4 linked regions of the Homo sapiens genome follow. The protein of the gene in region 2 purifies or fractionates together with the protein of the main gene of each other region. This does not show direct contact. Each region holds a gene or a part of one and is shown on either strand. Other genes may lie near its edges.

Region 1 (3,500 bases), on a different chromosome or scaffold from region 2:
AGGGGCATCATGTGGGGATCAGCAGCTAGGGCTCCTCCTGGGGTCAATCTAAGGGTCCTTGGAAGAAAGGCATGTCCGTGTGTGGTTCTGTCTGCAGCATCATTTGGAGTTTGATTCTGTTGCTATTCTGATGGGTTGTAACACTGGTTTGCCTCCACCAGATGTTGTTGAAATGTTAATATAAAAGTAACATTCCTTTTAGGATAAGTGGCATTGGATTTGGGTGGCTGGAGTAACTTTAGTGTTAACCTTGGCTAGATCTTTCCTGCAGTTATCAATCCCTTCATGACTTCCACAGAAAATCTCTTTCCTTTATAACCTTCTTTGCATAGCCAGGGTGTGACATATTACCAAACCCAATAAGAAGTTCTAGCAAACTCGGTGTTAGTAAAACTTTCGTGCTTCCTTTTTGTTGGTAATTATCCCTGCTATCAGGATAATAATTAAGCAAATTCTACAACAATGAAAACTCTCTTTCCAGTATTTCAGTTAGAAGGTGCTATTGTGTCCAGAATTGGTGGGTTCTTGGTCTCATTGACTTCAAGAATGAAGCCACGGACCCTCACGGTGAGTGTTACAGTTCTTAAAGGCGGCGTGTGTGGAGTTTGTTCCTTCTGATTTTCGGATGTGTTCGGAGTTTCTTCCTTCTGGTGGGTTCGTGCTCTCGCTGGCTTCAGGAGTGAAGCTGCAGACCTTCGCAGTGAGTGTTACAGCTCATAAAGGCAGTGTGGACCCAAAGAGTGAGCAGCAACAAGATTTATTGCAAAGAGCGAAAGAACAAAGCTCCCGCAGTGTGGAAGGGGACCTGAGCCGGTTGCCACTGCTGGTTGGGGCAGCCTGCTTTTATTCCCTTATCTGGCCCCACCCACATCCTGCTGATTGGTCCATTTTACAGGGTGCTGATTGGTGCGTGTACAATCCCTGAGCTCGACACAAAAGTTCTCCAAGTCCCCCCTAGATTAGCTAGATACAGAGTACTGATTGGTATATTTACAAACCCTGAGCTAGATACAGAGTGCTGATTGGTGCATTTACAAACCTTGAGCTAGACACAGGGTGTGGATTGGTACATTTACAAACCTTGAGCTAGACACAGAGTGCTGATTGGTGTATTTACAATCCCTTAGCTAGACATAAAGATTCTCCAAGTCCCCACCAGATTAGCTAGATACAGAGTGCCGATTGGTGCATCCTCAAACCCTGAGCCTAGACACAGGGTGCTGATTGGTCTGTTCACAAACCTTGAGCTAGACACAGAGTGCTGATTGGTGTATCTGCAATCCCTTAGCTAGACATAAAGGTTCTCCAAGTCCCCACTAGACTCAGGAGCCCAGCTGGCTTCACCTGGTGGATCCTGCACCAGGGCCGCAGGCAGAGCTGCCTGCCAGTCCCGCGCTGTGCGCCTGCACTCCTCAGCCCTTGGGCGGTTGATGGGACCAGGCGCTGGGGAGCAGGGAGCGGCGCTCGTCAGGGAGGCTCAGGCCACGCAGGAGCCCACGGCAGTGACTTGGAGAACCTTTATGTCTAGCTGAGGGATTGTAGATACGCCAGTCAGCACTCTGTGTCTAGCTCAAGGTTTGTAAATGCACCAATCAGCACTCTGTATCTAGCTAATCTGGTGGGGACTTGGAGAATCTTTATATCTAGCTCAGGGATTGTAAACGCACCAATCAGCACCCTGTCAAAACAGACCAATCAGCTCTCTGTAAAATGGACCAAATCAGCAGGATGTGGGTGGGGCCAGATAAGGGAATAAAAGCAGGCTGCCTGAACCAGCAATGGCAACCCGCTCAGGTCCCCTTCCACACTGCGGGAGCTTTGTTCTTTCACTCTTTGCAATAAATCTTGCTGCTGCTCACTCTTTGGGTCCACACTGCCTTTATGAGCTGTAACACTCACCGCGAAGGTCTGCCGCTTCACTCCTAAGCCAGCGAGAGCACGAACCCACCAGAAGGAAGAAACTCCGAACACATCCGAACATCAGAAGGAACAAACTCTGGACATGCCGCCTTGAAGAACTGTAACACTCACTGTGAGGGTCTGTGGCTTCATTCTTGAAGTCAATGAGACCAAGAATCCACCAATTCCAGACACACTGCCATGTATAACCCTACTGCAAATAGTAGAGTGAGTATAGCAATTCCCACAAGTGTGGTGTAGTAGATACTTTCCATCTAAAATTTTATTTGCCAAGGTATCCAGATTTTTGTGTTACCCATCTCTTTTTGTTTCTTGTAAGCTTCAGGAGATCACCACTTGATTCACAGGAATAAGCAGTGTTAGTCTAAAATGTAGGCACACAACTTAAAAACAATTAATGTGACTAGGATTTAATGACAAATGTATGATAAGCTTTGGAGCATATTTTCTCTCTCTAGTCCTGATTTTGGTAAAAACAAATTATGATAGGACCGTGTTGTTTGTAGAATAAACCTTAGTCTTATATTTGGCCTTGTTATTTGCATAAAGTTCAGCAAGAGTAATTATTTCTGCATAGTCCTTTTGGATTGGCTTCGATGGAACTCTGTTCCACAAGAAATCTCAGATAAGACTTCTTAAAGCTGAGCCCAGCATGGGTTTGTATCTTCAAATACCTGTGAGTTGGGTGATCCTTTTCTCTTAAGGTCCCAAGATAAACTTGGAGCTCCTGGACCTGTTAGAAAGTGACATTCTTTACTGACCAAAGGTTAGGAACCCTGTGCGGGGACTGTGTAGACAAGGTATGAGGCCAGTTCTTCCCATGGGGCTTTTTCAGCTCTGCAAGTGGAGGTTGACTCCTTAAAGGGAAGCATACACTTCCAGTCAAAGCCTTGATAAAATAGCCAGTTTTTCCATTTGTGTCCTGTTGAAAAAGAAAAATGGATTCTTATTTCACTGATGCAAACAACTATATTGCCATAAGTTAAGAGTTCTCACAGATTAGAGGAACCAGGCAGAGAGAAACAATCATGCTTCAAGTTTTGTTCACAGGAGTATACCTTACTCAATTATTAAAGGCTGTAAATAGTTCAAAATAAGTTTCCTTGACTCTGAAAAACAAACCAAGGATCAGCAATATTCCAAGCAAAAGTCAAAAAGATTGCTTTAGCTTTCTGAGTGTAGTCCATTTAGTCAATTCTTGTTTTGCTTGATATTTGTGAACATTTCAGTTCATGAGTCCTGTACGTTCTTTCTCTCTTCCAATGTTACAATCTTCAAAGCTGTTAAAAACCTGCATTTGAGGACACCTGTTGAAAGTCCTTAATATAGCTTGATTATAAACTGTCTTTTCAGAAGGAACAAAGCAAAACAACAATTGTCTGTGCATGACAAAATTTCCAGGTTACAGTTAAAAACATGACGGAAAAAGTTTAGTTAACCTTAATTATGATTGATAGTATATACTTAGACATTAGAATTTTAGAAATCCCATACAATTTTGGAACATATATTAGTATTATTCACCAAAATATAACTTAAAGAAGATTGGACATCGTTTTGGCAATTCTAATGTGACTAAA
Region 2 (4,280 bases):
AAGCCCCCACCCCCAAGGAAGCCACTGCCTGCCGACCCCCAGGGCCGGTGCCCATCGGGTGACCTGCCCGGCCCAGGGGCTGGAATCCCGCCCCTAGTGGTACCCTCCAGGTAGGAGGAGCCCTGGGCATGGGTGGGCGGGGCGAGTGACCTGGGGGAAAGGGGCCTCTGACTCTTTTTTCTTGGCTTCCCGCAATCCAGACCAGCGCCACCGCCTCCGACAGTGTCCTCGCTCTACCTCTGACCTCTCCGGAGGTTCCGCTGCCTCCAAGCCGGACTTAGGGCTTCAAGAGGCGGGCGTGCCCTCTGGAGTCCCCTACCATGACTGAAGGCGCCAGAGACTGGCGGTGTCTTAAGACTCCGGGCACCGCCACGCGCTGTCAAGCAACACTCTGCGGACCTGCCGGCGTAGTTGCAGCGGGGGCTTGGGGAGGGGCTGGGGGTTGGACGGGATTGAGGAAGGTCCGCACAGCCTGTCTCTGCTCAGTTGCAATAAACGTGACATCTTGGGAGCGTTCCCCAGAGTTTGTCTGCTTCTAGAACCCGGGTCGCTCCTGCTGCGGTTCCAGGTTTGGCCGCCAGAAGACGCTGCCGCCTCAGACGAGGGCGGGCTGTGTGGGGCGGGAGTACCAGAAAGGGTCGGCGTGTGTCCCCGGGATGCTCGCAGCTTCCCTCTGCCCAGACTGGGGTGGCTTTCGGCGCAATCTGTCAAGCTGTTGGACCTGCCGTCCCCACTCTGACCATTGGCTGGGAAAAGTGGATCTGGCTGATGCTCCCAGAGCCCAGGAGCCAGGGCGGAGCGGGGCGGCGGCTGCTCCCACGATCCCAAGGCCGCGCACCTGCCTCCTCCCCCTCCGCCGCCGCCACCTGAGGGATCGGGAACAAAGGTGCTTTGTACAGGCCGCAACCACCTCATTACTTCGTCTTAGGGACTGGGGCCGCGTGGGCCCCCAGCCCGGAACGAAGGTGTGGAGCGGCAAGGGACAGACGCCAATCCTAAAGTGAGCATCTAGCGCGCCACCTAAGGCTCTTTAGGGAAGGTGGTCCCAGAGCTGTGTTGTCCCTTCCGCTTGCACTGTCCCTAGATGTGCAAAGAAAACGGGGCAGTGCATGAAGGTGGTTGGACAGGCTTCATGGATCCTCGCCCGCGCCTCACTTTCCCCTATCTGGGCAAAGGTTATGTACCCTTATTTAAAATCTTCCAAACTTCTAATAAGGCAGTCTACCCTGCACTAAAGCAGACACGAAAGAGATGACCTCCCTAAAAATACTGCTGTTGGAATACGTCCTTCCTTCCCGCCCCCTCGCAGTGCGGTGCAGCCTCAGTGGAAGCTTTGGCGAACCTGGCGCGCGCTGCGGTGCACAGAGGGTTAACTGGAGTTGGCGCTGGGTGGAGAGGAGGAGACGCGCTCCCATTGGCGGAAAGTTATTCAGGGGCGGGGTCAGTGAATCTCCGTACCCCACTCCCCTTTCCGCAACTTCCCTCTTCACTTTGTACCTTTCTCTCCTCGACTGTGAAGCGGGCCGGGACCTGCCAGGCCAGACCAAACCGGACCTCGGGGGCGATGCGGCTGCTGCCCCTGCTGCGGACTGTCCTCTGGGCCGCGTTCCTCGGCTCCCCTCTGCGCGGGGGCTCCAGCCTCCGCCACGTAGTCTACTGGAACTCCAGTAACCCCAGGTAGCCGGGCCGAACCGGGCGAGCGCACAGCCAAGTCTGCGCGCTCCCGGGCTTTGCGCGCGCCCGCCACCCGCTCTTTGCGCGGCGCCGCCTGAGCCTGGCCGCGCGCCGGGGCTCCTTTGTTTGAGCCGGCGGGGGAGGGGGGAGGGGCGAGGGGCGAGGCGCGCCCTGGGTCTCCCCACAGCCCGCATGTGTTGGGGGGCAGGCAGAAGACCCCAGCCCCAAGGGTTGTCTAGGGGGTCTTGGAGCATGGAGCTGGGGGGGCCTTTGCCCGCACTCCGGGCTCCGCCCCCCTCGCTGCTCTCCTGGCGATCCCCAGCCTCCCGCAGGCTGGAGCTGTGGCTGACGAACTTGAGAGCGAGGGAGGGGGCTTTACTCTTATGAAAGAGCGTGGGTTACTCTCCTGCCCGCTGGGTCTCACCTCTGGCTCTCACTCTGTCTCCTGATCTCATTTGCTATCTCTGCTTTCATCTCTGTCTTTATTGGTCCTTCTGTTTCTTTCCAGTGTCAGCCCTGCCCTTCTAGCCGAATCACCTCTGGGCAAGTCTCGTGACCTTCCTAACCTCATTTATCTCACCTGTATAATGGGCTAATAATACCTAGTACCCTGGGAAGTCTGGCAGGGTAAGTGAGGTCATGTATGTGAAAGAGGCTCAGGCTGTACAGATATAAACTATTATTTCTTTCTCTCTCCTGAGCTGCCTGCCTTTGAACCTTAGTATATTTTACTGTTTCCATCCCCCTCCCCAAGTCTCCCTGCCTCTCCTATTTCCTATCTGTTTTTCTTTCTGATTTTCTACTTGAGACAATCTGTGACTATTCATTTCTTCACTCACTAACATTTATTTATTAAACACATACTGTGTGTGCCCGGCCCTGTGCTAGGTTGCAGGGGATTAACTATATAGATGAGAAGATCAAGACCCTGCCCTCTGGGATTCCACAGACTCTCTGGAGAACAGGCGCAGGCAGGAGAGCCTGCATAAAGACAGGTCATTACAATACCAATAACAAGTGATAAGAGCTTTTGTTGTCCTTGGACTCTGAATTCTCTATCTCTGTCACAGACCAAAGCTTCTGAATCACTTGGAGGACCTGTTAAAAATTCAGGTTTCTCACCCCCCAATCTTAAGGTTTCTGGCTCATTCATTCAATCCACAAATATTTATTGAACACTGTCCTGTGCTGGGCACTTTTCCAGGCACGGGGGATGCAGTAGAACAAAACTTACCAAGGCCCTGTCCTTGCTCAGCTTGCGTTCTAGTAAGTCTGGGCTGGCTGAGCCCAGGAATCTTCATTTCTAATCAGAACTGATACAGGTCGTCCTTGGACCACCCACTGGAGGCTTTTCCTAAGTCATGCTTCGCTGTGTTTGTGGTATGGGGGGTGGTTCATGCAGCATTCAGTACTGTGGGGAGCAGCCCCTTCCAGCCCTTCCCACCTGTGCTGGCTTCCCCAGGCAGCTCCCAAGAGGTGGGGAAGGGAGTCCTGAGAAGACTGAAGACTGGGTAGTATGTGGACTCCCCCCATGCCTGGCACTTGCTCCTCCTGGCCAAAAAAGGGAGGCACCTAGCACCCACTCCCTCATTCTTTTTTTTTTTTTTTTTTTAATTTTTAGAATTTAGAGACAGGGTCTTGCTCTGTCACCCAGGCTGTAGTGCGGTGGCATAATAGCTCACTACAGGAACTTGCGGACTCTAAGGATCCTCCCGCCTCAGCCTCCCAAGTAGCTGGGACTACAGGAGTGCACCACCACTCATGGCCTTTATTTATTTATTTATTTATTTATTTATTTATTTATTTATTTATTTTTTGAGATGGAGTCTCGCTCTGTCTCCCAGGCTGGAGTGCAGTGGCGCAATCTCGGCTCACTGCAAGCTCCGCCTCCCGGGTTCACGCCATTCTCCTGCCTCAACCTCCCAAGTAGCTGGGACTACAGGTGCCCGCCACCACGCCCGGCTAGTTTTCTTTTTATATTCTTAGTAGAGACGGGGTTTCACCGTGTTAGCCAGGATGGTCTTGATCTCCTGACCTCATGATCCGCCCGCCTCAGCCTCCCAAAGTGCTGGGATTACAAGCGTGAGCCACCGCGCCCAGCCTATTTATTTATTTATGGTAGAGACAGTCTCACCATGTTGCCCAGGCTGGTCTTGAACTCCTGGCCTCAAGCGATCCTCCCACCTCGGCCTCCCAAAGTGCTGGGATTCAGATGTGAGCCACCACACCTGGCCTCCCTCATTCTTTTTTTACCGTGACATTCTTTTCACCCTTGGGTTGAAGTCAGTCTAAAGGACAGTGTTCCTCACTTTATATCTGTTTGAGGAGACCTTTCCCAACCCCTGTTTCCACCTCTGTGTCTGCAGCTGCACTGTGTGCAACTGTACCTCCTGCCTCTCTGCCCAGCTTCTTCACAGCATCCATCCACCTGACATTGATCAAGCCTGGTGCTATACCACATTGAGTGTTGGGCACTGGAGCTAGAGAGGTGTGTGGCAGCTCCAGCCTGTAGGACAGGGTGTGGTGACCCTCCTTCTCACATCTAAGCTGTGTGGTTATGGGCACTGCAGGTCTTAGCCTCTCGGAACCTGTGAATCGATCATCTC
Region 3 (3,500 bases), on a different chromosome or scaffold from region 2:
AAATTGAGAAATATTTATTTTTTCTCATCAAGTTAACAAATTTATTCCTTAAACGTGTGTTGAATCGATACTATAGGGCAGGTCTTTCATTAAATGCTGGAAATGAGATGAACAAAATATAGTCCCTGACTTCCTGAATTTCAGGATGTAGAAGAAAACAAAGAATTACACTCACCATGTCAATTGCTGAAATAAGCCTCACACAGAGGGTGTCAGAAGGGATAGGACCACAGAGGGAGGGCACCTAACTTGTTAAAGGTAATTTGGAGGGGGAGAAGTGAAGGCTCTCAAGGTACATGTATCTCACCAGACATTATGAAGAAGTTGGCCAGATAGAAGGGGAAAACATATATTCCAGTCTCTATGTGCCATCATACAATGTCTTCCTTTCTTACTGTCTTTTACTGTTATTCTATATTCCTAATAGGCATTTATGAAATATCCCACCAAAAATGGTTTCTCAGTTTTAATTAACTCTTTTCCCTACTTTATCCTTAGTGAGGGAAAAAATTGTCTGAATTCTTTGTCCCTCAAGGAGTTCCTTCCTTTTCAGACCTTTCCTTTCACTAAATAGAAGTTTAATTTCTTCTTAAACTCTTCGATGTTCATACTTTGCCTCATATGGTGCTCTGTGTAGATACTTCAGTAGCTTTTAATTAATAATTCTCTGGTACTAGAAGTTTGATCTTTCAGCAAGTAGTTGTTACTACCCTGGGTTCTTCTAAGAACTCCACATTGCGCCGTTAATATGTAGACTTATTTTAAATTCTCCTTCCTATTCTTAACATTAAATATTCTCAATTAATGGTAACTTAAGAATATCAAGGCACAAGATTTGCAATAAACAATGCATTTGATAGGTTTTACCTATCATTTAGTGTGCTTTTCACAAGCACTGACATTGACAAGCATTTTAGTAGTTGCATGGTCTCCTTCAGCCTCTGTGAGGCAATAAAACACAGGAATGTGCTCTCAACCTTCAAAAGGAAAGCTCAGACAAATAGTATCACTAAACTGCAGTCTACATCAGCTTTCCAACCTGTACTTTGTATCATCCTCAATTCATTAAGGTGTGGAGAAAAAAAACAATTCTCCTTTCCATGTTTGTCACAGTTTAAAATTATATTGTTTGTGCAGAACATTAATAATGATAGTTTAATAGTGCATGAATATAATTTATAAACTCAAAAATATACATATGTTGGGTGTATATGCTCAAAATTATCCTACAGGCAGGAAGACATGATCCAAACAGTTTGATAATTACTGATCTAATCATAAGCATCTTAAAGATAATTTACAAGTTATATAAAAGGGTCTTTTAAAATCCCTGTTAATGTTCTTTAAAAGTCTCTGCAAGGCAGTCTTACACAATAACAGGTCACTTCCTCGGGACACAACTGCCTGCTCCTCAGCTCTATGACAATTAGGCTCTGATGGCTGGTAGAAATTTCTTTTATCTCAGTGGAGAGCTGGAAACAAAGAGCTAAAATAACTAGAAGCTAAGAATAAGTCTACAGGACCCCTGATTGTAGCTCTTACATCCAGGCTCTATAAGTAAATCCAGACTTCTTGCTTCCTTTGCAAAATGTAATGTTTTTAGTGATGATAATAAACATGTTTTTTTAAAAAACCTTTTATTTTCATAAACAAATCATGTTCATTTTAGTCAGCTCAGCCTCTTCAATTTAATTCAAGAACATTTTCCAAGAGCCAATAATTCTTTAAAAATAAAAAAAGCCAATGTTTTTGTTATGAAACTACCAGTGATGTTTTAAATGAAAACAATATTAAATTGTTTCTGTCATTTTCATAAGTTGAAATTATATTTTAACTGAAAAGATATCATTAAAGTAATTTATTAACATTATATGGCTTTATCAGTATTTGTAATGAATTGAGCACATCTCGGGGACAATAATAAATGCTTTGTACCTGTTTTCTGTCTCGTTTCCCACTACAGATTCCCAAACAACAACCCATTAGAACATTGGAACATTAGAAGAATGTTAGAACAACCCATTAGAACATTGGGAGACTATGTACACTTATTTTTATATTCTCCTTCCTATTCTTAACATTAAATACTCTCAATTAATGTTATGTTGAGAATATCAAGGCACATTTGTGGAATTTAGAGTTTTAGACAAAAGATAGTTAACATTTTTTGTTGTTTTTAGAAACCTGTAGGAAATTAGCTAATATGTCTATTTTGTCTTAATGTAGTAGAGGAAAAATATTACTCTTGTAATTTGGGATATACTGTGGGAAAATAAGTCGTGATTTAGTGATGGAGAAAGTGTAGAACTTCAGTTTAGGTGTGTATTACTCCCACAACATAGCCCAGAAGTTCCTCTTTATATCTAATTGCTAACATCATTATTGCATACTATCTACATTTTTTTCCTTTGTCATTTTTCTCCTAAAAAAAGAAAATCCCAATCTCCTTAAAAGACACTGGTCATTTGAGGTTACTCTTTAATCAAGATATGGTTGAACTTGGCAGGACCCAAAATGTTCTAAAATGCTGGAATTGCTGGTTCATTTGCAAAATTACAAAACAATTCTATTTCCTACCAGCAAATTAGCACTGTGAGAGATTTCCAAGTCCTAGTAGTGAGCTATAGGCTTGCATTATATCATGCCTAAGAAGATGTATATCATCATCATCAGTACTTAAGCCTTTAGTAAGCTATCAAAATATGGCACTATGCTACATGAAAATCAACTTGGTTCCTCTCTTCTGATAAGTAACAGAATGCTTTATATTTAAAATGATTGCTTTCTATTAAACTGTAATACATGAAGTTGTTTTGAAACATGACATTTGTATAGTAACTTTGAAATCTTTGATTTAAAATTGCAGCTGATGTTCTGAGCGAAGAAGCAATACTGAAATGGTATAAGGAAGCACATGTTGCTAAAGGCAAAAGTGTTTTTCTTGACCAGATGAAGAAATTTGTTGAGTGGTTACAAAATGCAGAAGAAGGTATGATTCTGTTTACAAACATTGATGACCTTTAAACACTGTCTCATTATATGTCAAAATATTTACCTCTTCCACAGATTTTACTTGATTTTCTAAAACTAAAATTCTAGAGTTATCTTTCGTATCAAACATTTTGCCAACATCTTAGCTTTCCTTTCTGAAATCACGGCAATAAAAATCTCTACATGTAAAAACAAAGAAAGAAATGAAATGCTTAAATTATCCACTCTGATGGAGGACAATAAGGAAGAAATGATTAGTAGATGTGAAAGGAGAAAAATACATTTAGCTTAATCACGCATTATGGAATTCTATAGATTTTTATGACACCTTTACCAATTAACTGGCAATTTTAAATAATGGAAATATAAAGTGGAAGGATAATAATGAGTAAGAGTGAATTCAGGCCAGGTGTGGTGGCTCACACCTGTAATCCCAGCACTTTGGGAAGCAGAGGTGGGTGGATCACCTGAGGTCAGGAGTTTGAGAGCAGGCTGGCCAACATAGTGAA
Region 4 (3,500 bases), on a different chromosome or scaffold from region 2:
GAGCCACCGTGCCCAGCCCTACAGCTTCTGATTTTAAAGAAATTGAAACACTTTTGTGGGCCCCTAAGAATGTCATAAGTCCTAGGCACCATATCACTGTACTTAATGGATAAATCATTTCCAGCTGTTAAAAAAAAAGGGGGGGGGGTGTGGCAGGCATGGTGGCTCATGCCTGTGATCTCAGCAGTTTGAGAGGCCAAGGCAGGAGGATTGCTTGAGCTCTGGAGTTTAAGACCAGCCTGCGCAACATATCAAGACCTCATCTCTATTAAAAATTTTAAAAAAATAAAAAATAAAGGCTGGGCGTGGTGGCTCACGCCCATAATCCCAGCAGTTTGGGAGGTTGAGGCAGGCGGATCACTTCAGGTCAGGAGTTTGAGACCAGCCTGGCCAACACAGTGAAACCCTACCTCTACTAAAAATACAAAAATTAGCTCAATGTGGTGGCATGCGCACCTATAATCCCTGCTACTCAGGAGGCTGAGGCAGGAGAGAATCACTTGAACCCGGGAGACGGAGGTTGCAGAGAGACTAGACCCCACTACTGCACTCCGGCCTAGGTGACACAGTAAGACTCCATCTCAAAAAAAGAAAAAAGAAAAAAAAAAACTAGCCAGGCATGGTGGCATGCACCTGTAGTCCCAGCTACTCCAGAGACTGAGACAACAGGATAACTTGAACCGGGGAATTTGAGGCTGCAGTGAGCTGTGACTGTGCCACTGCACTCTAGCCTGGGGGACGCAGTGAGACCCTGTCTCAAAAAAAACAAACAAGGTAGCAGGGCACAGTGGCTCACGCCTGTAATCCCAGCACTGTGGGAGGCTGAGGCGGGCGGATCACTTGAGGTCAAGAGATCAAGGCCATCCTGGCCAGCATGGTGAAACCCCATCTCTACTAAAACTACGAAAATTAGCTGGGTGTGGTGGCATGCACCTTGTAGTCCCAGCTACTCAGGAGGCTGAGGCAGGAGAATCGCTTGTACTCGGGAAGTGGAGGTTGCAGTGAGCTGAGATTATGCCACTGCACTCCAGCCTGGGCGACACAGCGAAACAAGGTAAACAAGGTAAACATGACCTGGCACAGAGTGGTGTGCCTGCTCTACCACAGAACTGGTGCTCACGGCTCACAGCTGGTGCCCATAGCTGACTGCACCTTCTTCTCCTCTCCCTCCAACCCCTCCTCCAAATACAGATGTTCACGTAGAAGGAAGGCCTAAACCCAGGGTTCTCAACAGAGTCCAGGGCTCAGCAGCATGTATTGTTTAAAATGAAAATTCCCAGGTCCCACCCCAGACCTGCAGAATCAGAACTCTTGGGAGTGGGCCCAGTGATGTGCATAGTAACAAGTCCTCCTTGCAACTGAGATGTGCGTTCGCGTTTGGTCTAAAGGGCTCACAGGGTTACCGTTGTGTGTGGGGTTGGAGGAAGAGATTCCTCCTTGGGCAGCGCACATCTCAGACATCAAAAACTTGGGCTTCAGACTCAGACACACCAGGGCTCAAGGCCCAGGCACCCCACGGAGCATCTGGCTGTGCGCCCTTGGGCAAGTGCCTGCCCTTTTTCAGGCTGTCTGCTTCTCTGAAGATAGAGATTCGAAGAGTCCCCCTCCTGGGGAGATGAACGCCCAGTGCAGTGACACTAATACTTAGCGTGCCGAAACCAGTTGTCACACACGCTGACCACTCCCACATAGCCCCAGCACATCAGTTTTTACTTTATGTACATCTGTATGCGCCTACAGCCTTAATCACGTCTAATACGAAGAGAAGGGAAAGGTTTTGTCTAAATAACATGATCACCGCTACCATCACTACCAAAAACAGCCGATCCCCACACAACTCCACGACCACCTGCCCAGCTCCGCCCTGGCCCCACATACCCGTTTTGCCCGTCCTCCAGGCCCTGAGACGGGGCAGCAGGCTGGGCACAGGCAGAGGGATGGGATCTCTGTCCCCGATTCGGACCTCAGCCACCAGCTCCAGCATGTCCTCACTTCTGCAAGGCGGAAGGGGTGGGTGAGCCTCAGGGGTGCTTCTGGCTCTCACGCTGAGGCCTCTCCCACTCCAGCTGCCCAGCTACTCACTCGCCAGGCCGCAGGTCCAGGCGGCTGGGAACCCAGGTATCCGGGGGATCCAGGACACTCACCAGCCCTGCGAGGAAGCTGTCCGTGGCCATGTCCAACACCTGGAAGAGGCCAGAGAGGCTCTACGCCGTCCCTGGTCACATGAAGACTGGCAAATCCTGCTTCCCCACTCCCTAACCTCTCAGGAACCCAGACATCTAAGATCCCCAAGAAAACTGAGGATCTAATTCCTATAGCCTGACTGCCATCAACACTCAAAGCTCAGGCCCACAGATCAGGCCCCCAGACTCTCCAACATTGCCCCTGGTCAGCATCGCAGAGCCAGGAGTCCAGGTCCCCAAACCCCATTCCCCCAGACTCAGGCCCCCATCCCTTCCTCCCTGATACCCGTGAGCCAGGCCCCCAGCCCCCTCTTCTTACTCACAGTAGCCGTGTCAGTGCCCCCTGATTCCTGGGAACGGGGCTCTGACCGTGGACTCCGGCAGCGCCGCCATCGAAGGCCATGACACCGAGAGCCATCTGGTGAGAGATTTGCATGGGGGATTGGACACAGGGGACTTGCTGCAGAGACTTGCGGGGTAGAGGAAAGAGGAGCTTGATCTAGTTCCTGACAGCGGAACCAGCCTCCCGCATGCTCTCCAGGCCTCCATGCGCCACCTCCCAGGAGGACTTCCCAGCACCCACTTCAGAGGCTGCGACGCTCAGCCATTCGTCCTCCTGTCTGCCCTCAGACACCTCAACCTGGCATTCAGGCCTTGCTGGGATCCAGTCCCCACAGACCTCTCCTGCCTCCCCCAACCCCACTCACACCCTCCTGCATGCCAGCCCCAAGGAAGCCCAGCGCAGCCCCTCGCCGCTGCACCCGTGCTGTAGGCCTGCTGCAGCTGATCAGGCTTCCCTCTAATCCTAGGTCCTTAGACTCTTCTAGGTCCTTAGAGAGCCGTTCACTGTCCCTGCTCGGGGAAGGTGCCCTGACCCGTCTCCCACCATGCTAGCTCAAGTGGGCCTCCTGCCCTCTCCCAGCACTGTGCCTGTCTCCCTTCCACTGCACACTAGGCCCTTCCAAGGCAGCTACAGGGTGTCTGCCCATTTTTGGCTCCCCATGCCAGCACAAGGGTGGCACCCAGGAGGCTTCAGAAAAGCTTGTATGAATGACATTAGGATAAAGAATGCAGAGAGGGGGCAGGGGCTAAAAGGAACCGGAAGCCGCCATACCTTTATCATTGGGCAGGTCCCCCTGCAGGGAGCTTCCCACAGCCTGCTGGATGGCTCGCTGGGGAAGGGGGGAAGAACCAAGCGTCAGAGGACCCAGGCAGATGCTTTGCAACCTCTGCCCCTTGGGAGACAGACATCCCAGACACTGACAGCTAGACTCAAGTGCTTCAAGGGAGCCAAGAGTCCAGCGCCCCTGCCTCAGG

The links.
Region 1: the proteins of EFNA4 (region 2) and DYM purify together in Homo sapiens (affinity purification with mass spectrometry; one large-scale study listed by BioGRID and IntAct). This does not show direct contact.
Region 3: the proteins of EFNA4 (region 2) and BZW2 purify together in Homo sapiens (affinity purification with mass spectrometry; one large-scale study listed by BioGRID and IntAct). This does not show direct contact.
Region 4: the proteins of EFNA4 (region 2) and SCAF1 purify together in Homo sapiens (affinity purification with mass spectrometry, with the first as the bait; one study listed by BioGRID). This does not show direct contact.

The regions. Positions count from the first base shown.
Region 1 is NC_000018.10:49,450,646-49,454,145, reverse strand, and holds part of DYM (dymeclin), read left to right. Parts: intron 1-3,500. UniProt on the Homo sapiens protein: Necessary for correct organization of Golgi apparatus. Involved in bone development.
Region 2 is NC_000001.11:155,062,260-155,066,539, forward strand, and holds the start of EFNA4 (ephrin-A4 isoform a precursor), read left to right. Parts: upstream 1-1,480; 5' UTR 1,481-1,564; coding exon 1,565-1,677; exon of another isoform or gene 1,678-1,732; intron 1,733-2,182; exon of another isoform or gene 2,183-2,301; intron 2,302-4,280. Other genes in the region: ADAM15 (disintegrin and metalloproteinase domain-containing protein 15 isoform 6 preproprotein), read left to right, coding at 1-110, 201-243; EFNA4-EFNA3 protein precursor, read left to right, coding at 1,565-1,677. UniProt on the Homo sapiens protein: Cell surface GPI-bound ligand for Eph receptors, a family of receptor tyrosine kinases which are crucial for migration, repulsion and adhesion during neuronal, vascular and epithelial development.
Region 3 is NC_000007.14:16,701,681-16,705,180, forward strand, and holds part of BZW2 (eIF5-mimic protein 1), read left to right. Parts: intron 1-2,866; coding exon 2,867-2,989; intron 2,990-3,500. UniProt on the Homo sapiens protein: Translation initiation regulator which represses non-AUG initiated translation and repeat-associated non-AUG (RAN) initiated translation by acting as a competitive inhibitor of eukaryotic translation initiation factor 5 (EIF5) function.
Region 4 is NC_000019.10:49,645,209-49,648,708, reverse strand, and holds part of SCAF1 (splicing factor, arginine/serine-rich 19), read right to left. Parts: intron 3,356-3,500; coding exon 3,298-3,355; intron 2,602-3,297; coding exon 2,507-2,601; intron 2,216-2,506; exon of another isoform or gene 2,184-2,215; coding exon 2,083-2,183; intron 1,995-2,082; coding exon 1,879-1,994; intron 1-1,878.